Linked DNA regions of Homo sapiens. The protein of the gene in region 5 purifies or fractionates together with the protein of the main gene of each other region. This does not show direct contact. Each region holds a gene or a part of one and is shown on either strand. Other genes may lie near its edges. The genes, in order: PAPOLB, PAPOLA, HMGCL, AKAP1, MTHFD1L, MTARC2 and ANGEL1.

Evidence for each region.
Region 1: the proteins of MTHFD1L (region 5) and PAPOLB fractionate together in Homo sapiens (co-fractionation; one large-scale study listed by BioGRID). This does not show direct contact.
Region 2: the proteins of MTHFD1L (region 5) and PAPOLA fractionate together in Homo sapiens (co-fractionation; one large-scale study listed by BioGRID). This does not show direct contact.
Region 3: the proteins of MTHFD1L (region 5) and HMGCL purify together in Homo sapiens (co-immunoprecipitation; one large-scale study listed by IntAct). This does not show direct contact.
Region 4: the proteins of MTHFD1L (region 5) and AKAP1 purify together in Homo sapiens (affinity purification with mass spectrometry; one large-scale study listed by BioGRID and IntAct). This does not show direct contact.
Region 6: the proteins of MTHFD1L (region 5) and MTARC2 purify together in Homo sapiens (affinity purification with mass spectrometry; one large-scale study listed by BioGRID and IntAct). This does not show direct contact.
Region 7: the proteins of MTHFD1L (region 5) and ANGEL1 purify together in Homo sapiens (affinity purification with mass spectrometry; one large-scale study listed by BioGRID and IntAct). This does not show direct contact.

The regions. Positions count from the first base shown.
Region 1 is NC_000007.14:4,859,231-4,863,404, reverse strand, and holds the start of PAPOLB (poly(A) polymerase beta), read left to right. Parts: upstream 1-1,374; 5' UTR 1,375-1,594; coding exon 1,595-3,508; 3' UTR 3,509-4,174.
Region 2 is NC_000014.9:96,508,882-96,512,381, forward strand, and holds part of PAPOLA (poly(A) polymerase alpha), read left to right. Parts: intron 1-3,500. UniProt on the Homo sapiens protein: Polymerase that creates the 3'-poly(A) tail of mRNA's. Also required for the endoribonucleolytic cleavage reaction at some polyadenylation sites.
Region 3 is NC_000001.11:23,811,930-23,815,429, forward strand, and holds part of HMGCL (hydroxymethylglutaryl-CoA lyase, mitochondrial isoform 1 precursor), read right to left. Parts: intron 2,410-3,500; coding exon 2,261-2,409; intron 1-2,260. UniProt on the Homo sapiens protein: Mitochondrial 3-hydroxy-3-methylglutaryl-CoA lyase that catalyzes a cation-dependent cleavage of (S)-3-hydroxy-3-methylglutaryl-CoA into acetyl-CoA and acetoacetate, a key step in ketogenesis. Terminal step in leucine catabolism.
Region 4 is NC_000017.11:57,109,246-57,112,745, forward strand, and holds part of AKAP1 (A-kinase anchor protein 1, mitochondrial precursor), read left to right. Parts: intron 1-779; coding exon 780-913; intron 914-2,552; coding exon 2,553-2,679; intron 2,680-3,245; coding exon 3,246-3,373; intron 3,374-3,500.
Region 5 is NC_000006.12:150,872,202-150,875,701, forward strand, and holds part of MTHFD1L (monofunctional C1-tetrahydrofolate synthase, mitochondrial isoform 2 precursor), read left to right. Parts: intron 1-3,500. UniProt on the Homo sapiens protein: May provide the missing metabolic reaction required to link the mitochondria and the cytoplasm in the mammalian model of one-carbon folate metabolism complementing thus the enzymatic activities of MTHFD2.
Region 6 is NC_000001.11:220,754,822-220,758,321, forward strand, and holds part of MTARC2 (mitochondrial amidoxime reducing component 2 isoform a precursor), read left to right. Parts: intron 1-125; coding exon 126-299; intron 300-309; exon of another isoform or gene 310-405; intron 406-3,500. UniProt on the Homo sapiens protein: Catalyzes the reduction of N-oxygenated molecules, acting as a counterpart of cytochrome P450 and flavin-containing monooxygenases in metabolic cycles.
Region 7 is NC_000014.9:76,810,083-76,814,170, reverse strand, and holds the start of ANGEL1 (protein angel homolog 1), read left to right. Parts: upstream 1-1,288; 5' UTR 1,289-1,343; coding exon 1,344-1,407; intron 1,408-4,088.

The DNA.
Region 1 (4,174 bases), on a different chromosome or scaffold from region 5:
ACTCTGAGTTCTTGGATAACAACAAACTATACAGTTTCTCAAGAGCATTCGGAATTAGAATAATTAGTTATAGAGTACTAAATAAGTATGTTTAACACGTTTAAAGAAATAAAAGGTAGGGGGAAAAACATGAAAGAACAGAATGCCATCTAAAAGGCAGAGAAGCTTGGAAAAGAACAAAATAGTGAAATATAAGTATTTAAGTGGATATTTCAATGATGCTTAAACAGCAGACTAAATACAACTGAAGAGAGGACTTGGAGGTAATCTGGCATCACCCAGAAAGACACACGGCTTAAGAGACATGGAGGACAGAGTGAGAAGGTTGACAACGTGTCTAGATGAAGAGAATCAGGAGACAAGTGGGAGAACATATTCCCAGGAAGTGCCCAAGAAGCTTCTGGAGATCATAAAAAGCATGACTTCTGATTCGGGAATCATAGTGTATCCTGGGTAAGATTATATTTTTTATTTTTTATTTTTATTTTTAATTTTATTTTTTTTTTTGAGACAGAGTTTCACTCTTGTTGCCCAGGCTGGAGTGCAATGGTGTGATCTTGGCTCACCGCAACCTCTGCCTCTCAGGTTCAAGCAATTCTCCTGCCTCAGCCTCCCGAGTAGCTGGGATTACAGGCATGCACCACCACGCCCGGCTAATTTTGTATTTTTAGTAGTGACGGGGTTTCTCCATGTTGAGGCTGGTCTCCAACTCCTGACCTCAGGTGATCTGCCCGCCTCGGCCTCCCATAGTGCTGGGATTACAGGCGTGAGCCACTGCGCCCAGCCTGGGTAAGATTATTAAAGAGAAATCTATGCCTGGACACACAGTGGTGGGATCACAGGGCACTAGGGACAGACACTTTTATAGCTGCCATAAGAAAAGACAGACGAGCAGTAGTTCACCTAGCTGCGGAATTCTCAACGGGAACCAGAGGACAGCAGTATCGCGCCCTTAAAGCATGGCCAGAACACAAATGTCGACCTCGAAATGCTGCCCCAGCTAAACCAATGTCCAGCAACGGCCCAAGAAACAAGACAGAAGCTGCTTTCCACCGCGGGTTCCCACCACGAAGGGGTCTTTGGACTTCCAAAGGGTGCACGCTAGGGTGAAGAGTGCTGAGGGTGCCCCCAAAAAGGATGCACATCTGCGATGTCAAGGGACTTGGAGAGCAAAGAATTAGATGGGTAAAGTTGGGCAAATATGTAAAATAGTGGCAATAAAGGGTTGAGTTTGGCCGGTCATCAACAACGTGAATCCTGCCCACCCCCATGTATAGCCCCCCGCGCAGCGGTAGGAGCCCCAGCCCAGAACGCTGTGGCTCCCGTGAGCCCTCGCGCTGGCGGCGGGTGCGCAGGCGCCCGCGCGTGTACGGTAGGTTCTGGAACGCAGCCGCTGAGGGGTCTGGCGCCATGTTGGGGCTGAGGGGAAGGAGGAGAAGCTCCTGAAGCGGCGGGCGCGCAGCGGGAGTGGGAGTGGGGTCGGACCAGGGCAGCTAGAAGCCCTGCCCTTCCGCCTCAGCGGATCATGACCCGGGCGGCGGCCGCGAAGGTCGCGGTGGTGGGGGACGTGCCCTGGCGGGGCGGGCGCTGAAAGATGATGCCGTTTCCGGTGACAACCCAGGGACCACCGCAGCCGGCGCCGCCGCCGAATCGCTACGGCGTCTCCTCGCCTATCAGTCTAGCGGTCCCCAAGGAGACGGACTGCCTCCTCACCCAGAGGCTAATAGAAACCCTCAGGCCCTTCGGGGTCTTCGAAGAGGAAGAGGAACTGCAGCGCAGGATTTTAGTTTTGGAAAAATTAAATAATCTGGTAAAGGAATGGATACGCGAAATCAGTGAAAGCAAGAGTCTTCCCCAGTCTGTAATTGAAAACGTTGGAGGAAAGATTTTTACGTTTGGCTCTTACAGATTAGGAGTACATACGAAAGGCGCAGATATTGACGCCTTGTGCGTTGCACCAAGTCATGTGGATCGAAGCGACTTTTTCACCTCATTCTATGCTAAACTGAAACTACAGGAGGAAGTGAAAGATTTAAGGGCTGTCGAGGAGGCATTTGTGCCAGTTATCAAACTGTGTTTTGATGGGATAGAGATTGATATTTTATTTGCAAGATTAGCACTACAGACTATTCCAGAAGATTTGGACTTAAGAGATGACAGTCTACTTAAAAATTTAGACATTAGATGCATAAGAAGCCTTAATGGTTGCCGGGTAACCGATGAAATTTTACATCTAGTGCCAAACATTGACAACTTCAGGCTGACTCTGAGAGCCATCAAACTGTGGGCCAAGTGCCACAATATCTATTCCAATATATTAGGTTTCCTCGGAGGTGTTTCCTGGGCCATGCTAGTAGCAAGAACTTGTCAGCTTTATCCAAATGCAGTAGCGTCAACTCTTGTACGGAAATTCTTCTTGGTATTTTCAGAATGGGAATGGCCAAACCCAGTGTTACTGAAGGAGCCTGAAGAACGGAATCTTAATTTGCCTGTATGGGACCCAAGAGTAAATCCCAGTGATAGGTACCATCTTATGCCTATCATCACACCAGCATACCCACAGCAGAACTCCACATACAACGTGTCTATTTCAACCAGGATGGTCATGATTGAGGAGTTTAAACAGGGGCTTGCTATCACACACGAGATTTTGCTAAGTAAGGCAGAGTGGTCCAAACTCTTTGAAGCTCCAAGCTTCTTTCAAAAGTACAAGCATTATATTGTACTTCTGGCAAGTGCATCAACAGAAAAACAACATTTAGAATGGGTGGGCTTGGTGGAATCAAAGATCCGAATCCTGGTTGGGAGCTTGGAGAAGAATGAATTTATTACACTGGCACATGTGAATCCACAGTCATTTCCAGCACCCAAAGAAAATCCTGATATGGAAGAATTTCGTACAATGTGGGTGATTGGGTTAGGGCTAAAAAAGCCAGATAATTCTGAAATTCTCAGCATTGATCTCACCTATGATATCCAGTCTTTCACAGATACTGTTTATAGGCAAGCAGTGAATAGTAAGATGTTTGAGATGGGTATGAAAATTACTGCAATGCATTTAAGAAGAAAGGAACTTCACCAGCTGCTGCCTCATCATGTGCTTCAGGACAAGAAAGCACACTCAACAGAAGGTAGAAGATTGACAGATTTGAACGACAGCAGCTTTGACTTGTCTGCAGGCTGTGAAAACAGCATGTCTGTGCCTTCATCTACTAGCACTATGAAGACAGGCCCATTGATTAGCAGTTCTCAGGGTAGAAACAGTCCTGCCTTGGCTGTAATGACAGCATCTGTGGCTAACATACAGGCTACTGAATTTTCCTTGCAACAGGTGAATACCAATGAAAGTTCAGGGGTTGCATTAAACGAAAGTATTCCTCACGCTGTCTCTCAGCCTGCCATTTCTCCATCACCAAAGGCCATGGTCGCCAGAGTTGTTTCTTCAACATGTCTCATAAGCCATCCAGACCTTCAGGAAACTCAGCAACAAACATATCTAATCCTATAGTTGGAGTCTAGAGGATATTCTTGCCTCATAAAGAAGAAAGGACCAAGAAAACCAAAACGGAAGAGGAGAAACTCAATACAAAGACAAGTACAACTCCATTAGAAAAATTCAGACAGCATCTTCTCTATTGGCCTCTCAGGGAACATCAGTATAGATCTTTCCGGTATCCCTGTTCTCCCTGCAAATCCAATTCCTGTTATCAAGAATTCAGTAAAACAGGTTGAATGGTTAAAAACAACCTCAAGGGTCCATGAACAATATCTGCCAACTGAACCTGTTGTCTTCAAATACTAAGGAAGGAGAATGAGGGGTACGGGACTAGATATGACTTGAAATAGATTGAGGCTCATTTGGTAACTTCCTTTACTGAGCCAGTCTTGATCAGAAGTCCACATTAGTATGTGACAGCTAGAGGTACTGTTATTAATGTATCAGCAACAGTTACATTAACTATTTCAAAGGACTACTGCCCTTAAAATGAAAAAACCTTTCAGCTATGTTTGTACCCGTGACTGACATCTGGACTGGATTTATGCTTGATGCATTGTTGGGAAAATATGCAATACAAACTGGTATCAGAATTCCTTATACTGATGAGGCACTTTATATTTTTTATTAGAAAGTAGAACTAATTTTAGATTTTTCAAATTGGTGAATTTTATTTTT
Region 2 (3,500 bases), on a different chromosome or scaffold from region 5:
GGCTCAAAAGAATACCTGACCAAGGTCATAAAGGTACTAAATTGTAGATTGGGGCTTAAATCAGCTCTGGATTCTGTGTTGCATTGTCATTCCAGTACACTATACCATCTCCTGTGGACACTGTAGGGAACCATGTGTGGTTAGCTCAGTTGGAGTCTTTATTTATTTTTGAGACAGGAACTCACTGTTGCCCAGGCTGGAATGCAGTGGTGTGATCATGGGTCACTGCAGGCTTGACCTCCCAGGCTCAAGGGATCCTCCCACCTCAGCCTCCCAAGTATCTGGGACTACAGGCACGCACCACCATACGTGGCCAATTTTTGTATTTTTTACTGTGACAGGGTTTTGCCACGTTGCCCAGGCTGCTCTCAAACTCCCGGGCTCAAGCAATCCCACCTTGGCCTCCCAAATTGCCGAGATTACAGGTGGCTCATGCCACCATGCCTGGCCAGTTGGAATCTCTGTATAGTTTCAAGTAGAATTAATTTTCAAGCTCAATTTTTTTTGTGTGTATAACATGTAAATCTCAAAGTATTTACATAATAAAAATGTATACAAAAGTATATAAACAAAAGTAACATATAGTGTATACTTGTAGTATACACAGAATGTAACATACTATAGAACCTGAGATCTTGTGCATTGCTTAATGATTGGATATATTCTGTAAAAATGTGTTATTTTTCAGATTTTATTGTGGGAACAGTGTACTTAACACAAACCTAAATGGTATAGCCTGCTATGCACCTAGGCCTATGCACCAATGATATGGCCTGTTGCTCCTAGGCTATAAACCTGTGGCAGCATGTTACTGTACCGAATACTGTAGGCACTTGTAACACATTAGGAAGCATTTGTGTATCTAAATGTATGTAAACACAAAAGGAATAGTAAAAATACGGTATTATGCTGTTATGGGACCACTGTTATATGTGTGGTCTGTCATTGACTGAAGAATTCTGTTAACGTGGCACACGACTACTTTCAGTGGCTTTATTTGCATATATATTCTTATTTAAAGCCATGCACAGATTTGCCACTTAGACGCCGCTTTGTTGTGGCCAGTACCTTTTGTGGGAGTTGCTTTTTTTTTTTTTTTTTTTTAATCTTTGGATTGTATGTAGGCCTGCTGAACTGTATAGCAATCTCATTTGTGGAAACCTAAGGATTTGGGAAAGAAAAAATAAAGGCATTCTGTTAGATTTCTTTCTTCCTCTTTTGTTACAGAATTATTTTTCAAATTTTTATTCCCTCTATATTTTGTCCAGAAATTGGATTCTTGGATTTTACGGCAGTTTTTATAATTTTGAGGTTGATCAAGAATAGTGTTTGTCATTTTGATCATTAGAAACATTTAAATTACATTTCCTGAAATTAGTGTCTGTAATACTATGACTTACTATAATCTTGACTATTTTCTGATACATTTTCACACTCTTTCGTACTTTTTCAGGTCCTGTTTCATACTTTATTAAATTTACATTTCTTTCATTTTCAAGTTGTACTTGGCAAGTTGATGTAGCAGTGTACAATTTGGCTTTTTTTTTTTTTTTTAAGTTTCTCCTAGCCATATGAGAGAGAGGGACACAACACACACGCGCGCGTGCGCTTGTGCGCAAAGGGGCAGTTGGAAGTACCCTTTGGAAGTGAGGAAAAATAACTTGGCCATTGTAGTAATTGAACAGCAAGTACCCTTTCTCTGCATAAGCAACCTTGAATTTTCAGTTTGGCCTTGGGCTTTATCATACATACTTTATTCCCCTTGAGCATAAACAAACTATTAACATCATCTTTGAGCCTCTGCTGCTGCTTTACTAAATATTGGCTGGATGGCCCACCTGCAGTACGTTTTTAAGAATATAGTGGGATCTAAATATTTTTAGTACCACTTACACAGAACACCTTACGGTGGGCCAGTTAACCATCGTTTTAATTTCTTAGCAAATAGATTATTTTGGCGATAATCTTGCCTGTAAGCTACTATCATGCCGTATACCTTGTGAAAAAGGAGATTGTATTATTTTGGCTAATAATTAATATTTAATGCACATTGAGATACTTTAGAGAGATCCCTTGTATCTTTTCTGTTCATGTCCTTTGAATGAGCACATTAAGGTTAAGACCTTTAAACAGCAAATTCTACTGTGATGAATTGTTACTTTAAATAAGTTAACTGTAGTTTATCTGATTGGTTTCAAAGAAGAATATTTAGCAAGTTTGGCTTTCAGTTTTAACTCTATCATGCAAATAATAAAGTGTTTTCTGTTAAGTAGTAGCTATAAATTGGGGCAGTTGACTCTGTTAATATCATGGGCCACAACTTGTTCCAAATGCCTAATATCACTAGGTGGGGATTAATCAGTAGTGCCTGATGAGTTTTGTATAAATTGAGACACAGGCGGGCTGTGGTGGCTCATGCCCGTAATCCCAGCACTTTGGGAGGTCAAGGTGGGAGGATTGCTTGAGCCCAGGCGTTCGACACCAGCCTGGGCAACATAGTGAGATCCTGACTCTATTAAAAAAAATTAAATTGAGATGCAAAGTACTTAAACATTAACTATTTAAGGAAAACACCAATGGAAATATGATGTTCTGTCCTTTTGTGTGTTAGTCGTCTGCCTAGATTACGCCTCTCCTTTCCGATCATTTACTGTGTACACCTTCTGGCATAGTCATGATTTTATCTTTGTTTCTTTAATGGTTTTTTTCCCAAACTTCTACTTTGCACTTGTTGTTTAAGGATCTGAATCCCAGACTAAATTTGAGATTGTCATTGAAAACAGAGACTACCTTAAGCATCTTTGTATTTCTGATTTTATTTAGCATTGTCTTTTATGCATATTTAGGAATTTGGTACATTTCAACCTCATAAATACTGTACTTTCTGACAAAAGGTAGATGAGAAAAAAGTGCTTTTAGGAAAATTGAGTTGATGTTTAATAACTTGGCCGCCCTAGCAGCTTCCTGGAGCAATAAATAAAGCAATATTTGCTTTGGATTTACTATTTCTAGCCACAGAGTATTGCACTAAAAAGCTATTTTAAAAATCTTTGTTTATTTCACAAAATAGTGTTTTAATTAGCATAAACTGAGTTTTTAGCTAATAACCAAAAGCTAATTATTGTTTTAATTTGAAGATTTGTTTGGTGCCCCTTGCTGCCATTATAGGGGGTTATTTTAGCCTCCTTGCTATAACTATTCTAATTTAATGGTGAACGGTAGAATTAGTTGACTTTCAACTTTTGCAAGATTATTAATATTTACTTTAAATAATTTAACATGTTGAAACAAGTTTATAAAATATAAGGTAAAATTTTACGGTCTCAATTCTGCTTGATTGTGTTTCTATGAATGTGTTATGGACATAATATACAAATAGTTAAAAAAAAAACTGGGTGTCATGGTCCATGCCTGTAATCTGAGCTATAAGGGAGGATCGCCTGAGCTCAAGAGTTTAGATCAGCCTGGGCAACAGAGCAAGACACCATCTCTAAAATTAA
Region 3 (3,500 bases), on a different chromosome or scaffold from region 5:
TGATGCTCCCACTTATTCTCCAACCACTGCTGAGCAAGAAAAAGGTAAGAGAGATGCTTAGAAAGACACAGATCTGGGAGTTGGGCCAATGTTACTGGAGCACCTGCTTCCCCATTCATCCACCTGCCCGTCAGTGACTGAGTGCCCACTGTGGCTAGGCCCCAAGCTGGGAGAGTGGAGCACCCCAGGGACTGGGAGAGATGTGGGCTTTGCCCTCATGGAGTGCACGGTCTAGTGGGGTGGGGCAGGGAGGGAATTTAACAAGCAGCTAAGTGCTACATTTAGAGGATGTCCCGACACCATGGGGTCCCAGAGAAGGGCACTAACTCCAGCTGAAGGACTGGAGCAGCTTCTCAGAGGAACTGACTCCCACAAGAAGACCTGAAGGATGAGCAGGAGTTATCCCCGAGAAGCATGATGTGGAGGAAGTGTTCTTTATTTTTTGGAGACAGAGTCTTACTCTTTCACCCATGCTGGTGTGCAGTGGCATGATTTTGGCTCACTTCAGCTTGGACCTCCCAGGCTCAGGTGATCTTCCCACCTTAGCCTCCTGAGTAGCTGGGACTACAGGCACATGCAACCACACCTGGCTTTTTTTTTGTAGAGCTGGGGTTTCACCATGTTGCCCAGGCCCAAGCCAGTCACAAACTCCTGGGCTGAAGCAACCTGCCCACCTTGGCCTCCCAAGGAAGGTTGTTCTGAGTCTAGAGAGAGCACGTGCAAAGGCCCAGAGGCAAGAGTGGAGGCATGTGACAAACAGAAAGAAGTTCCAGTTGGGCTGGAGTGTACCATGAAGAGGAAGCAGGGGCCAGAAGGGAACTTGAACGGTACGGCTACAGAAAAGAGCCGGGACCAAATCATGCAGGGTTTGTAAACCTCATTAAAAAGTCTGCACTTGATTAGTCACTGAAAGCTTTTTAACCAGGAGGGATGTGATCAGATGTGCACTTTTGTGGGGTTTTTTTGGTTTTTGTTTTTGAGACAGAGTCTCACTCTGTCACCTAGGCTGGAGTGCAGTGGCGTGATCTTGGCTCACTGCAACCTCTGCCTCCTGGGTTCAAGTGATTCTCCCGCCTCAGCCTCCTGAGTAGCTGGGATTACAGGTGCATGCCACTACGCCCGGCTAATTTTTGTATTTTTAGTAGAGATGGGGTTTCCCCATGTTGGCCAGGCTGGTTTCAAACTCCTTACCTCAGGTGATCTGCCCGCCTCGGCCTCCCAAAGTGCTGGGATTACAGGCATGAGCCACCATGTTCAGCCCAGATGTGCACTTTTCAACGATCATTCTGGCTGCAATGTTTTTTTTTTTTTTTTTTTTTTTTTGAGATGGAGTTTTGCTCTGTCACCCAGGCCGGAGTACAGTGGTGTGATCTCGGCTCACCACAACCTCCGCCTCCCAGATTCAAGTGATTCTCCTGCCTCAGCCTCCCAAGTAGATGGAATTACAGCTAATTTTTGTATTTTTAGTAAAGACGGGGTTTCTATCCACTACCACGCCCAGCTAATTTTTGTATTTTTAGTAGAGATGGGGTTTCACCATGTCGGCCAGGCTGGTCTTGAACTCTTGACCTCAGGTGATCCACCTGCCTTGTCCTCCCAAAGTGCTGGGATTACAGGTGTGAGCCACCATGCCCGGCCTCTGGCTGCAATTTGCACAGCAGTGTGACCTTACAGTAGAGTATTCGCCCTTCCTGGGCCTCGGTTTTGTAATTTATAAAGTGAGGATAACCTACTCCCTGCTGGGCTATTGTGAGGTTTCAATTATTATAGATAATACACACACAATGCCTGGAACCACTGATATTAGAGATGTGATGTTGGAAACATAGAAGCCTAGGTAATTCTCCAGGGATGTGTGAAGAGCTAGTGATAAAGCCAGGACTCAACTGACCTCCACAAACCCGTTAGTGTCCTGTCCTGCTAGATTCCTTTAGCATGATAGCAGTGGTGCTATCATGGCTCACTGCAGCCTCAAACTCCTGGTCTCAAGCCATCCTCTGCCTCAGTCTCCCAAGTTGCTAGGACTACAGGCGCATGCTATCATGGCTAGCTGGTAAACTGACCCAAAATTCAGGTTTGAGAGAAAGTACTTCCTAGGATTTCTTCTGACCACACTTATTTGGGAAAAGATGTCTAGGTGTGGAGCTCAGGCTGCCCCCACCCAGGATAAGAAGTTTGTGGCAGGAGGACCACTTGAGTCAGAGTCTAGCCCCATTCCAGAACGGTACAGAGGAAAGGATACCAATGTGCTCTGACTCACCCCCGCACAGAAATATTGGCTGACTGCGCTGCCTTCAGGATTGCGTCAAACCTCTGAAAACTCTCCTCTATGGAACAATTGATGTTCTTCTTGGTGAAGAGCTCTGAGGCAGCTCCAAAGATGACTACTTCCTTGGCTCCAGCAGCAACCTGCCAACATCCAGGTGAACTCCTTTCAGCACTTTTCTCTTTTTTTGTTTGAGATGGAGTCTTGCTTTGTTGCCCAGGCTGGAGTGCAGTGGCATGATCTCGGCTCACTGCAACCTCCACCTCCTGGGTTCAAGCGATTCTCCTGCCTCAGCCTCCTGAGTAGCTGGGATTACAGGAGCCCACCACCACGCCCGGCTAATTTTTGTATTTTTAGTAGAGACAGCGTTTCACCATGTTGGTCAGGCTGGTTTCGAACTCCTGACCTTGTGATCCACCCACCTCAGCCTCCCAAAGTGCTGAGATTACAGGTGTCAGCCATCATGCCCGGCCAGCACTTTTCTCTTTAAAGAACACTGACACAGAGTAGCAAAAAATTTCTCTTAAGGTAAATTTTATGTTATGTGAATGTTATGGGTTGAATTGTGTCCTCCTAAAAATATATGTTGAAGGATTAAAACCCAGCACCTCAGAATGTGACCTTATTTGGAAACAGCGTCATTGCAGATATCATTAGTTAAGATGAAGCCATACTGGAATAGGGTGGGCCCCTAATCCCATACGACTGGTGACCTTAAAAAAAGATGGCCAGCCGGGCGCAGTGGCTCACGCTTGTAATCACAGCACTTTGGGAGGCCGAGGCGGGCAGATCATGAGGTCAGGAGATCGAGACCATCCTGGCTAACACAGTGAAACCCCATCTCTACTAAAAATACAAAAAATTAGCCGGTCGTGGTGGCACACGCCTGTAGTCCCAGCTACTCGGGAGGCTGAGGTGGGAGAATCACTTGAACCTGGGAGGTGGAGCTTGCAGTGAGCCGAGATCATGCCACTGTACTCCAGCCTGGGCGACAGAGCAAGACTCTGTCTAAAAAAAACAAAAACAAAAGATGGCCAAGTGAAGACACAGAGACACAGAAAAGGTGGCCCTGGGAAAACGGAGGCAAAGACTGGAGAGATGCATCTACAAGCCAGGCAATGCCAAGGACTGCTGGCCACCACCAGACCCCAGCAGAGAGGCATAGGACAGATTCTCCCAGAGGCCTCAGAAGGAACCAATCCTGCTGACACCTTGATTTGGGACTTCTGGCCTC
Region 4 (3,500 bases), on a different chromosome or scaffold from region 5:
TTTGTGACGGTCCCTTTGGCACGCTCTTGAGTGAGAGTGGAACAGCCCAGGTCGGGAGCAGAGTCTGTTCCCATTGGGTTTTCTTGGGCATGAGCTTTGGCTCAGTCTTTTGACCAAGGGAGTATTTGAGCCAGAAGAGTGTTCAGAGTTGCATGAATCAGGCCTAAGCAAAGGGAAAGGAGACTCTCCTTTTTTAGTCCACATATGGCAGAGGAACGAGCGGGTCCCCGCTAGGTATAAGAATGGGGCCCTCAGGCAGGCCAGTGAGGACTTTGTCTAGCTCTGCTGGGCTGAAGGCCAGTACCTATGACCCTGGGACTGGGCCCTGGGGACAGGAGACTGACCCTTGGTCTGAGGGGGTAGGATAGTTGGAAGGGTGTCAAGGTGTTTGTGGTCCATCGGTCTGGCTCTCAGGACCATGTGGACCTCAAGCGTGTCTCCTCCCCCGCCCTCTGGGCTCCCCTTCCCTGGGCGCAGTCTGTCTCTTCCAAGTTCACCACTTGTGTCTCTGCTCCAGCAGCTGTGGCTGGGTGCGGCTGCCAATTAAGCAAGTGGGACTGTAAGTGACAGGCTAAAATTAGGTGTATCGACACCCCCAGTTCTCCTTTCATTGGGGTTGTTCTGAGCCTTCTAGACTGTAAGTTGACAGTCACCTGCCAAGCTTGAGGAGCGGGTGTGGGGCAGGGCCTCCTGGGAATGTGAGTTTGGGAAGTTCTTGGTTACTGGCTGCTCTGAGTGGGGTCTGTGTGTGTGCGTGCCTGCTGCTTCTTCCCCTGCAGGTTCTGACAGGAACAGCATGGATTCCGTGGATAGCTGTTGCAGTCTCAAGAAGACTGAGAGCTTCCAAAATGCCCAGGCAGGCTCCAACCCTAAGAAGGTCGACCTCATCATCTGGGAGATCGAGGTGCCAAAGGTAGGGGCGGAGTCCCCCAGGCTGGTTCTGTGGTAAGCCCAAAGCTCCCTGGGGCCAGGGCCATTAGACCTCAGGGAGGGAGGGGGCTGGGAGAGGGACAGTAAACCAGAAGGAGCCCTGGGTCAGCCAAAGGCCGCAGGGAAAGGACACGCTACACTTTGCCAAGGCTCAGAGAGCTTCCTGCAACATGGAATTCCTCCAGCTGCCTCCAGGAGCATCTTATTCTTGTACTTCTCAAACTCGCAGGCCTGTGTGTCTCCCTTGGGGGTGGTTCTTGCATATTCTGGGGCTCAGATCTATTTGGAAAAAAAACACCAAGGCCGTGGGGGCCAGCCAGAATCCCTTCACTGAGCTCTGCTCAAGTGCTCCAAGTGTATTTTATAATTGAGCAAAGCATAAATCCATATTTTAGAGAACTTGAAAAGTATAGAAATACATGCAGAAAATAAAAATCAGCTCTAATCCTACCCTTGAGAGTGACTGTGAAAGACTTTTATTTCCTTCTCATCTTGCACCCTGTGGTTTTTAAACAAAACTGAGATTATGTCGCTTTAATTAATACTTTAAATATTTAACAATTTAATTTTCGTGTGTTATTCTTTGAAAATGTAACTGTAACTGCATTATTCACTGTGTGGATGTCAGTTTACTTCATCAGTCCCCCATTCCTGAGTGCTTAAGTGGTTTCGAGCTTCTTGCTATTAGAACTTACAACATATTAGCTTGATCTTGATGTTTATCTCTGGGGCTCAGAAATAATTTGTCAGACCGCATTCTCCCAGGGCCCTGGGCTCTGTGCTCAGGTGGAGACTTGGCTTGGTCTGAACTCTGGGTCAGAGTGGCTGTTTTGACCCTGGGTTGCGAGGTCTCTTGGTGGTTTCCTCCCTGGGGGGCCCTGTTATCCGTCCTGCCTGCTTTTCCTTCAGTGGTTACAAAGGGCATGAAGAGAAAGGCTGTGCCTGAGGATGGACCATGTCCCCAGTAGCTCCTCCGGGAGGGGGTCGTTGGCGGTTGTGTGGGAGCCCATCTTACGTAAGGGCTAAGTTTGGCTGCTTCTATCTGCCTTGAACTCTGGCGCACTGGGCACTTCTGCATGCCTCCTGCTCTGCAGGCTTCAGCCTGCTGTCACTTGGCAGCGGGAGCCCAGGGTTCTTAGACCTTCATTTTCAAATCGAGCCCCTTTATCTTTGGATCTGAGTAGACTTGAGGGAGAGGGGCACGAGAAATCGAGAAACTGTGTGCTGGTGAAACTTCTCAGCATGGCTTTTAGAGGAGAAGATGCTGCTGCCTTTGCAGCTTTCCGGGTCTGGGCCACATTGTTGGGATGAAATGGGAACTGCTTGGTCCTGGAGCCAGACTGCCTGGTTCGACTTCCTGGTTAGCAGCTGTGTGACCTTAAGGTAGTTACTTAGCCTCTCTGGGCTTGTTTCCCCATATACAGAATGGTGATAAAGTTATCTGTGTTTCACAGGTACTATGAGTAAATGTAAGTGCTTAGAATAGTCCTGGAAAATAAATGCTGACATGGTAACAGCTAATATGTTTGAGCATGATCTTGTGTAAAACAGAAGTAGGTCTTTGGGTGTCCAGGGAATTGGTTTCCCTTTAACCCTCTCATCTCTTTTTGTCTTTCTGGAAGCACTTAGTCGGTCGGCTAATTGGCAAGCAGGGGCGCTATGTGAGTTTTCTGAAGCAAACATCTGGTGCCAAGATCTACATTTCAACCCTGCCTTACACCCAGAGCGTCCAGATCTGCCACATAGAAGGTCAGTAACATCTGCTGCTTGTATTGCCTCTTACCTGAAATATTAAATAGAAGTGAATAGCATCTGAGTTTCAATTGCTATCTTTTTGGAATAGGAAACCCTGCTTCTCATCCCAGGGAAGGGAGCATTAGGTATCTTCCCTGCAGCCTTTTCCCCATTTCAGGTGCCTGCGGGAGACTCAGGTCCCTCCCTACTCTGATCTTTGGCCAGGAGAAGTGTGGGTGCTTGGTTGGGCGGGGCCTGGGTCCTGGGTTCATAGTGCCCACCACCCCATAAAGGCTTCTCTCAAAGCAGAAGTGCCCTGTGTGCAATTCCCCCTTGGCATTTTCACAGCTGCCTGCCTCTTCTGTTGCATTGAAAGCATGGATCATAATGGCAGAGGTATCATTTGAAAGGCTTAGATGCCTTTCTTCCTAAAGCAGAGCTTAAGTGTTTTGTTACCTCAAAGATGCACTTGAACTCTATGCAAAGTCCAGTGGAGTGGGGTCTGTGGCTGTGTTTTTGTGAGTGTGGGTGTGAGTTTCCTCTTACAGTGATTGTATGTCCTGCCCCCATCCGCTATTTAGGCTCTCAACATCATGTAGACAAAGCGCTGAACTTGATTGGGAAGAAGTTCAAAGAGCTGAACCTCACCAATATCTACGCTCCCCCATTGCCTTCACTGGCACTGCCTTCTCTGCCGATGACATCCTGGGTGAGCGTGCTACTGGGTGATCCGGACTTCTTGCCACTTTCCCCCAAACCTACCCCAAACAAGAAACTCCCCAGACCTCAGGCTAAGAAGGCCAAGTGCACATGAGTGCCTGCGCCCTCTCTTCTCT
Region 5 (3,500 bases):
TGTATCCACGGGAGTAGCACTTTTAAATTTCTTCAATAGCTTTTCCTTTGCATTCACAGCTTGGCTAACTGTTTGGCTCAAGAGGCCTAGCTTTTGACCTATCTTGGCTTTCAATACACCCTCCTCACTAAGTTTAATTATTTCTCGGTTTTTATTTAAAGTGAGAGACCTGCAACTCTTCACTTGAACACTTAGAGGCCACTGTAGTTACTAATTGTCCTAATTTCAATATTGTTGTTTCTCAGGGAATAGGGAAGCCAGAGGAGAGGGAGAGAGAAGGGGGAACAGCCAGTCCAGTGAAGCAGTGAGAACACACACCATCATGAACCATCATGGCCACGGTTTGGCCAACACAATTACAACAGTAACATCAAAGATCGTCAATCACACATCACCAGAACAAACATACTAAAAATGAAAAAGTTTGAAATATTGTAAGAATTATCAAAATGTGACACAAATTGAGCAGATGCCATTGGAAAAATGACTCCCATAGACTTAAAACACAGGTTGCCACAAACTTTCAATTTGTAGAAAAACACAGTATCTGTAAATTGCAGTAAAGCAAAGCACAAAAAATGATGTATGCCTGTATTTTTTTTTCTATCCACATCCACCCCCCAACTTTTTTTTTTTTTTTGGTAGAGACCAGGTCTTGCTATCTTGCCCAGGCTGGCCTTGAACTCCTGAGCTCAAGTGATCCTCTCACCTCAGCCTCCCAAAGTGCTGGGATTACAGGCATGAGCCACTGCGCCCAGCCCCCATCCCCAACTATTTTAAAAGTCTAATTACTTTTTGACGATTGCCGACTTACCTATAGAAGTGTTCCTTTCAGCCCGGCGAGGTGGCTCACCCCTGTAATTCCAGCACTTTGGGAGGCCTAGGTGGGCGGATCACGAGGTCAAGAGATCGAGACCACCCTGGCCAACTTGGTGAAATCCTGTCTCTACTAAAAATACAAAAATTAGTGGGACGTGGTGGCATGCACCAGTAGTCCCAGCTACTCAGGAGACTGAGGCAGGAGAATCGCTTGAACCTGGGAGATGGAGGTTGCAGTGAGCCGAGATCGTGCCACTGCCCTCCAGCCTGGAAACAAAGTGAGACTCCGTCTCAAAAAAATAAAAAGAAGTGTTCCTTTCATCAACTATGAATGGATCAAGACTATGAATGTTTCTGAGAAAATTATTGCTGTTAGTAAGAATGTTTTTAGTGTTTAAGGGTAGCTTTGGGGCACAGAAAAAAACAAACGTACATTTATAAGAAAAAGGGGAAAGAGCCACTGTAGTATACCTGTTTTACAGATGAGGAATCTGAGACTCTTAGAGACTTGTCCACGCTAGTAAATGAAATGCCCAGTACCAATCCTGGGCCGTATTTCCACTTAGTGTCTCAGAATTACCTGGACTCTGTTAAAAATGCACATTTCTGGGCTCCACTGAGACACGTTGAATCAGACTTTCTAGGGCTGGAACTGTTATTTTTTTTGAGACAGAGTCTCGCTCTGTCACCCAGCTGGAGTGCAGTGGCATGATTTTGGCTCACTGCAGCCTCTGCCTCCTGGGTTCAAGTGATTCTCCTGCCTCAGCCTCCTGAGTAGCTCTGGGATTACAGGTGTGCACCACCATGCCTGGCTAATTTTTGTATTTTTACTAGAGATGGGGTTTCACCATGTTGGCCAGGATGGTCTCAAACTCCTGACCTCAAGTGATCCATTTCACCTTGGCCTCCCGAAGTACTGGGATTATAGGTGTGAGCCACTGCACCTGGCCTGGAACCTTTACTTTTACCAAACTCTCCAGTGATCCTTATACCATGAACCGCTTGGGTCCCACACTCCGGTGCTTTCCTGGACCCAGACAAAAATAAGAACCCAGCATAGCCAAATTAACAGTCACGACAGGCTGGAAAGAGTGCGGTATATGGGCCTCAGTCACCCATTATTGGATGGATGGATTTTAGTGCTTATTTATAAGGTGATTTGTAAACTTTCCCATATGGTCACATTTATTCAGCACAATAATACAATTAATTCCCTGGGAATGAAGTAGCTTTATCCCAAGTGTTTCCAAACAAAACTAACTGAAATGTTCCCAGGTTATAGACAGTTGCCTGCACCCAGTCCATCTGTTCCGGCCCAGCTGGCAGTAGAAAGACTGGTCCTGGTTGTGAATCTGAGCAGCTCTCTCCCCTAAAGCCCCGCCTGGGAACTGCAGTGCCTCTGGTTCCATTTGTCAGCTGTGTCTCTCTGAAAACTGGGGAAAGCTTCCCGATGCCTTTCTGCTCTTGGCAGTGTACCGTTGATGGCATTGGCTGGAACTTCTTCACCCCGCATTTTTGTTAGGTGCAGTGCAAGACCCTGTCGGAGACTGAAAACAAAATGTAAAGGTGGTCTTAGCACTGAAGCCTGGGGGCTCCTGTGGCTGCGCCTTTGGTCTATTGTGAGAGGGGGAAAAGCCAGCTCCCAGTGCTCATGTGCTGCTGAGAACATATCATAGGGTGGTGGCGAAGGTAGCCTCTGCAGTCACTCATCCCAGAAGGTTCCATAAAGAGCTGAGCTCCTAACACTTTTTTTTTTTTTTGAGACGGAGTCTTGCTGTGTTGCCCAGGCTGGAGTGCGGTGGCACAATCTCGGCTCACTGCAACCTCTGCCTCCCAGGTTCAAGAGATTCTCCCGAGTAGCTCAGATTATAGGCGCCTGCCACCACACCCAGCTAATTTTTGTATTTCTGGTAGAGACGGGGTTTCACCATATTGGCCACGGTGGTCTTGAACTCCTGACCTTGTGATCCACCCGCCTCAGCTTCCCAAAGTGCTGGGATTACAGGCGTGAGCCACCGCTCCTGGACTTTTTTTTTTTTTCTTTTTTTAAAAAGAAATTGAGTCTTGCTCTGCCACCCAGGCTGGAGTGCAGTGGTGCAGTCATAGCTTACTACAGCCTCAAACTCATGGGCTCAAGCGGTCCTCCAGCTTCAGCCTCCCAAGTATCTGGGACTACAGTCACGTGCCATCACGCCCAGCTAAATTGTTTATAGAGATGGGATCTCGTTATGTTACCCAGGCTGGTCTCAAACTCCTGGTCTCAAGCAGTCCTACCGCCTTGGCCTCTCAAAGTGCTGGGACTACAGGTGCATGCCACCATGCCAGGCCTTCTACCACTTTTACCTAGGCCTGCTCACCCCAGGCTGGCACCTCCCTCAGAGGTGGGAGGTGAAGGTGGCTGCTGCTGGGCATTTAGGAGGTACAGGTGCAGACTATGTTGTGGATTCTCAGAGGACTGAGAAGCTCTCTGTCTCTCTCTCTAGGAGGCTTTGATAGTGTTATCAAAGTGGGTCTCCAGTGTTTCTGGAACTTTCCTCCCCTTCCTTCCTTACCTAATTCCTTCTTTAAATTCCAGGACCTGGAATTTATCCTGTCTCGACACTTCTTGTCCAACAGTGAGCCCCCTGTCTTCACCCCCCTAATCCCCTGTCTTCACATCCCTCTTCCCACTTTATTTGCTT
Region 6 (3,500 bases), on a different chromosome or scaffold from region 5:
GGAAAATGATTGTTAGGTCCCAAGACGGGGTGGGTGGAGAGTTCTGAGGAAGTAGAAAGCTGGAGGGAAGCTGTTGGGAGGTGGAAGAGGATTTTCTGAGTGTGCCCTGGTTTGTTTCTCTGCAGGTTTTGGCTGGTGATTAAGGAAGATGGACACATGGTCACTGCCCGACAGGAGCCTCGCCTCGTGCTCATCTCCATCATTTATGAGAATAACTGCCTGATCTTCAGGGCTCCAGACATGGACCAGCTGGTTTTGCCTAGCAAGCAGCCTTCCTCAAACAAACTCCACAACTGCAGGTGTTCCGCTTGGGGGCATCCACAGAACTGCAACAGGCTTGGTTTCTCTTCAGGCTCCTCCTTGCATTCTGTCTTGCTATAGTTTCTACAGTAGAGGATGACATTGGTAAAGGAAACATTTAAGAGAAGTGCAGTTTGAGTTGGGATTGGGCATGAGTGGATGATGCAGGGTATTGTTTTCAGGGTACCTAGGATTTGTTTTAATCAGGTATGGTTAGACACGCAGACATAGAAATGACTGTCCTGAAAAAAGAAGATGTTATACCAACAGATTCTCTAGAAACTGGAGGCACGCTACGCCACGCAAGGCCAAGTGGGGGAGTACCAGGGTGGGTCAGGAGGCAGAGGGAGCAGGGGGAACATGTGGGCAAGGGCTTTTATTGTGGTTTCCACAGGAAAGGAGAAGCAAGGCAGGGGCGGCAGGCTTAGGGCTGGCTAGTTTGAACAATTTCAGCAGGCTCTGGGTCACAGGTTGTCTGGTACTTGGCTCTAGGGTTGACTAGGGCATGGGACTAGTGGCCCGGCATGTAAGCACCAAATAAAGGAGGTGACTGGGAGTGCAGACTCTGGATGGGTTGGTGTTCCTATTACAGGCACACTTGCAGGTCATCAGTCTATTATTTCTAGGAATTGGTCAGCCCTGGAAGAAGCAGTTTCTTCAGTGTCAACAAGGCTCCAAGATGTCAAAGCGTAAAACATGCAGAAAATTAAAAGCAGGATTACTACAAGTATAAAGGTGGTACAATGTGCTCATCTTTAGGGCTTTTCTCCTTTCATTCAAATCTTCATTCAGAATTGTCAACTCTCCAACCAGGCAGACAAGGGAGTTAGTGGAGACTTTAGCAGCTGTATCTCAGGGCTGGGTGAGAAGGATGCTGGAGCTTCCAGAGCTTTTCAAGTTGACTCTGCGGCCTCTGAAGTGTGTGGTTGAGATGAAGACATATTCCTTGGGTGTAAGGGATTTCCACTTCTGGCCAAAGACACACCTCAGGCCTTGGCTTCCTTTTGGCCTATGGGACTTCTGTTGGGTTGTCAAGTTCCGTGGTTTGCTGGGGTCTTGTCCTTCCACATTAAGAAGACTTAGATGCTTGTCATGGGATGAACTGGATCCCTTGTCACCAACTGAGCTTGTTAAGTGTGTGGAAGTTGGTGTTGTCCCAGGGCTCAGAGGGGAGCCTCAGATTACTCCGTGAACTCTCATCTTACGCTTTTTCAAGCAAAGCGTCTAAGCTGAAATCCACAACTCATGGTTCCCAATTTTCAAAAGTCTGAAGCAATAATTCACTGAATTCAGTATTTCAGGTAATTATCTTAGCAAGCCCATGAGGGGGTCATTAATTCCACTTTACAAACGAGGAAACCACGTCTTAGATCACTGCCACGAAAACACAGAGCTGGGATTTGAACCCACTTCCCTCCTAAGGCTTTTGCCTTTAACGTGTTTGTGTAGGGAGAAGAAAAGCTTTTCCATAAATGACAGGTTTTGAGCCCATCAGTTCATTGAAGAGGAAGTGTGTAGCCATCTCGGCTTAATTGGAAGACATGTGAAGGTGATGGGTAAATACGTAGCTGACATGTGTCACATGAGTAATATAGGTGTTGCCCTGTAGACTCACTGTGTTGCCAACAGTGAGCAAGTTTTTCCCCCAAGGCTCTTTACCAGCTAAATAGGCAGAAATCTAGGGGGACACTCACCTTCCTGGATGGAAAGAGGGAAAGAGGAAGACCTTGCAGGTGAGTTGCCTGGGTCTGAAAAAGACAGCAATTGCAGCCTATTCTTTTTTATTTATTTATTTTTTGAGACGGAGTTTTGCTCTTGTTGCCCAGCCTGGAGTGCAATGGCACGATCTTGGCTCACTGCAACCTCCACCTCCCAGGTTCAAGCGATTCTCCTGCCCCAGCCTCCTGAGTAGCTGGGATTAGAGGCATGTGCCATGACGCCCAGCTAATTTTGTATTTTTAGTAGAAATGGGGTTTCACCATGTTGGCCAGGCTGGTTTCGAACTCCTGACCTCAGGTGATCCACCTGCCTTGGCCTCCCAGACTTCTGGGATTGCAGGCATGAGCCACCGTGCTCAGCCTGAAGCCTCTTCTTATGTAATTCTGTTCCATGCATGAATTGTAGATCTGGATGAGGTGGGAATAGAGAGCCTGGAACCCTGGCAGTTTGGTGAAAATGATTGAGAGCTGTGCATTTGGATTGATGCAGAGGTGTAGTCAGCGCACTGCCCTCTCTAGCTGGTTAGACATGCTGTAACTAGTTCAGCCTGTATTTATAAGCTATTTTTAATGGATTCGTTGCCAAGGGAACTGCTAAAAACTGAAGAAATAACATAGATAGTGTGTTTAGCTAGTGCCAGCTGCTGTGACAAAATACCATAGTCTGGGTGGCTTAAACAACTGACATTTATTTCTCATAGTTTGGGAGGATGGGAAGTCTAAGATCGAGGTGCTGGTAGATTGGTGAGGTCCCTTTTCAGGGCTGTAGATGGCCACTTCTCGTTATGTCCTCACATGACCTTCCCTGGTGCCTGCATGAAGAGAGAAAGCAATCTTGTGTTTCTTCCTCTTATAAGGGTGCCAATCCCAGCATGAGGGCTCCACCTCATCTAACCCTAATTACCTCCCATAGGCCCCACATTGGGGGTGAGGGTGTCAACAAAGGAATTCTGGGGAGACACAAACATTTAGCCCCTAACAGATGGTAAGCGACAGAGTGATTACCACAGCCAGCCCACCAGAGCCCAGAATCAAATAACATAAACCAACAACCTCAAGTTAGTAAAAAGAAAAGTCCCTTCACAGACATTTGGACAAGGCTGAAGTGTTATGAATTTTATATTATTCTACACTTATTTTATTTTATTATTATTATTATTTTTGAGATGGAGTCTCGCTCTGTCACCCGGGCTGGAGTGCAGTGGCGCGATCTCAACTCGCTGTAACCTCTGCCTCCTGGGTTCAAGTGATTCTCCTGCCTCAGCCTCCTGAGTAGCTGGGACTACAGGCGCACGCCACCACGCCCAGCTAATTTTTGTATTTTTAGCAGAGACGGGATTTCACCATGTTGGCTACCATGGTCTCGATCTCCTGACCTTGTGATCCACCCGCCTCGGCTTCCCAAAGTGCAGGGATTACAGGCATGAGCCACCACGCCCGGCCACTTATTTTTTTTAAACTTTCACTGTTAGTGTTTTGAAT
Region 7 (4,088 bases), on a different chromosome or scaffold from region 5:
TTAGTGACATATGCTTTGTTCAACCAGTCAGTAAAGGCTTATGTGGTGGCTAGTAGTGCTAGCGAATGCAGATTCGGCCGCTTGCAAAACCAACGAGCAAGGTCGTGGTATGGTAGAAGGAGACTGACTTTATTATAAACCAAAGCTAGCAGTGGGGAAAAACGATCCAGGCTTTTGCTTTAATGGAGCTGCTTCACATTTCCAAGCAAAATGCGAGGCTTTAAGAAGTTTTGGCATGGAGGGTATGCAAGGGGTGAGGCAGTGCAGGTCTTCATGACGAGTTCTGATGACTTGTCTTGAGTTACTGCCCATCTGGTGAATGGGCTGGCATCATCTCGGGCTGGGCTGAGTTATAAATTAACTGTAGCCTTGAATCAATCTCCTGGTGGAGATTTCCACAGATGCCTATATTGTTTCAAGATTTAGTCTCTGGAACTTTTAAGCGAACATACAATTAGATATGCTAACAGTGTGTATGGGGGGTGCTGGGGTGTCGGGGGGTGCCTAGTGGTTAACTGAACAAAAATAAAGAAATAGAAGTATATAACAAGAATATAACTTCCAAGCTGGGTACTTGGTTACAATAGGTGCTTGGATTGTATTAGAGATACCTCAAAGTGAGCAAACAACCAGCCAGAACTGGTCCCTGGCCTTGTGGAAGTTTCTCTCTTCTGTCTCTCTCCTCTCTCCCTTCTCTCTCTCCTCTCTTTGTCCTCTCTCCTTTCTTTCTTGACTTCCTTACCAATGGGAAACCCTGTTTTTCTAGATTAGGGAAAAGAAGGCCCGTTTAGAAAGTAGGGAAGGAGACAAAGTCTTACTTCCTGAAGCAAGGTAGGACTCAATTTGTGACCTAGAATCTGAGACAGGGAAGTAGAGGCAGGAAAACGGGGGAAATGGGGGAATAACTCGCTTCCTTTCTGGGTCGAGAAGGGCTAGAAGTCAAGGTTCAGTGGAGCCTTAGAGAAAGTCCAGCTCTTCATTTTACAGGTGAGGAAACTGAGGGGCGGAGAGGCTATAGTGTGGTAACAAGGTGGACACCTAGTCAGCTGCAGAAGTGGGAATAAACTGTGGCCTTTGAATAACACTATGGGGCCTCCAGTGAGGCGCTCAATTTTAATTCGGGACGCCTGGGTGGCAGCCGGGTGCTAGGGGTGGCTAGTTGCCATGGGAACCGGCTCCTCCCACTTCCTGCGTGCGCACCCGTAGACCTGCGCTCCCAATAAAGTTGTTGTTGAAGCGCGGCGGCGGCACCACGTGGGCCGGACCGGGCCGGGGGCGGGGCCGAGCTGAGGGAGGACCTGCTGGCTGCAGTGAGGAGCGGAGGCGGGCGCGGGCGGCCGGCCATGATCGCGTCGTGCTTGTGTTACCTGCTGCTGCCGGCCACGCGCCTCTTCCGCGCCCTCTCAGGTACCGGCCAGGCGTACCGACAGACAGGAGCCCGGCCAGGGCTCGCCTCTGCGGGGCTCCGCGGGCCTGGGGCGGCGTGCGGTTGGCCGGGCCTCACGACTACCGTGCCCCGGGCAGTGCCGAGGTGTAGGGAGGCGGTCCTGAGCCCCTGCCCCGCGGGCCCCTCCTGACCCCACGAGGCCTGGACCTGGCCGACGTCCCTCGTGGGCGGCCCCTCCTCCCGCCTGTTGTCAGATGGCGTCCGGCCGCGGTTAAGGTGGAGAGGAGCTGTGGACGGGCAGGGCCCTTTCCTGGCCCTGGGGGTGCAGAGAAATTGTGGGGTCGGCCAAGTCAGCACCCCGGCGGGTCGGGAAGGGGTAGTAGCTCGGACCTAGGCGAGTGCCCAAATTCTCAGCGGGCGAGGCGGGTCGGCTCTGGGAGGTTTATGGCCGAAGTACTGGACGCACCGATCTTCCCCAGGTTAACTTCACACTCGCCTTTCACTGCCACCTGGCAGCTCTCGCTCACCGGTGTCTTTGGTTGAAAAACGGACGTTCAATCAGAGACACATTTAGATCTCAGCTTTGGAGCATTCCTGCCCCCACTCCCGGCGGTTTAGAGGGAGATGTGCTGGGGTGGGGGCAATGCCCAGTCGATACCTCAAAGAGGGGGTGTTTATTTCGTTATTGTTTCATAATTTGTCTGCATTCTCTATTTCTGGGCTTTGAAATTACGGAGGGTTTTATGCGACCATCAGTTTCTGAGATCCCATGGAACTCGCAGACTTTTTGCCTTTAATTTATGGGACAGGACCAAGAAGTACTTAGGAATGAGGGCTCCAATTGTATATTCTGTGGTTTTCCTTTGTGGAACTTTACACAATTGGTACGCAATGTGTGTGTCATTGATAATATATATTTCATATAGAAATATTTTAAATTTTACTGTGTATCTGCCATTAGAATGCAAACTTCAGGAGCGCAGGGCCACGTCCATTTTGTTCGCTGTATCTCTGGTGTTAACACATTGCTTGGTATACAGTAGGCACTCAGTGAATTCAGGAATGTCTTGTGTGTCCATACTTCTGAGGAATGTGGGAAACTCCACAGAAGTAATTGTTTCCAGAGAACTAAACATATTCTTTTAACTATGTTGCTGTTTTTCCTGGAGCTCTTCTAATGCCTTAGTGATACAGTATACTAGTCCAGAGGTTTCCAGACCAGTAGAGTTCTAGGGATCTCAGAGGAGGGCCCCCCCCGCCCCCCCACCTACACATTACAGTAGTCCCACTTATATTTACTTGGCATATTTGGTTTCCAGATAAGATTTTTAAAAAACAAAAGCATTCTGCTGCTGAAAATCCACCACCACCACCACCAAAAGACATCTACCAAAATTGAAAGCTAGTAACTTCGTGCATATGAACCAAAGAACCTCTGCCATCTGGTATACACAGAGGATATTTCAAGGGGCAGATAATCAGGAAGTCCTTGAGGCTAAAGCTCAACGACCCAGCCCATACATAGGTTTAGAGCAGGGTTTCTCAATCTCAGCACTGTTGACGTTTTGGACCGGATCATTTGGTGTGGGTCTGTCCTGTGAATTGTTGGAAGTTCAGCAGCGTCTCTGTCCTCTAACCACTAGATGCCAGTAGCAATGCTGCAGTTGTGACAACAACAGTGTCTCTGAACGTTGCTAAATGTCTTCCGAGGGCAAAATCACCGTGGTTAAAACCATTGTTTAGAAGGACATAAATATACATAGACCCCAAACAAGATATTTGAACCGTCTTTCAATATTTGAGCCACTTTTAAGGTTTCTTCCCTTTAAAAAAAAATTGCCAATAAAATGAGTCTAGTGATTGAGGGCCAGCATCGTGCATGTTACTCGTCCTGTGCTGTAAATAAATGGTTGAGTGTGTGAGTGTAGGAGTTGTTTGCTCTCACCAAAATACTGTGCTCAGAGTTTGGGGGCTCTAATTTTAGAGTTTTTCCCACTTTCTTTCTTGCCTGTTGGCTGTCATTGGTGGCTGCAGTATCAGAGAGATGTCAGCTGTCTCTTACTGTCGATTGTTGGCACCTTGTAATTTATAGCCTCTGATGTGTTGTGGAATGGGAAAGCAGATAATGAAGTTTGTGAAGATTTTATTACAATAAGTAGCTTTGAGAAAAGGCTTAAGGGCCCTTGCTAAGATGTAAATTGTATAGATTTTTGAGACTGTCTACTTTAGGACTTTTTCTTTTGGAATACATTAATAGATTAGGGAATTTATACAGCTAGAAAAGCTCAGAGATTATCTAGTTCAAACTTGTCTCTATTTTTTTAAATTTAAAATTTATTTTTTTCTTTTCTTTTCTTTTTTTTTTTGAGATGAGGTCTCACTTTGTCTCCCAGGCGGGAGTGCAGAAGGGCAGTCATAGCTCACTGCAGCGTCAACCTGGGCTCAAGCAATCCTCTCATTTCAGCCTCCCAAGTAGCTAGGACCATGGGCATGTGCCACCGTACTTGGCTAATTTTTAATTTTTTGTAGAGATGAAGTTTCGTTATGTTGCCCAGGCTGGTCTCTAACTCCTGGCCTCAAGTGATCCTGCTGCCTCTGTCTCTGCCTCCCAAAGTGCTGGGAGCCACCACGCCTGGCCTCTTGTCCCCATTTTACAGTCAAGAGTAACTTCATCTGACTAGGGGCATTGTTCAAGGTCAGT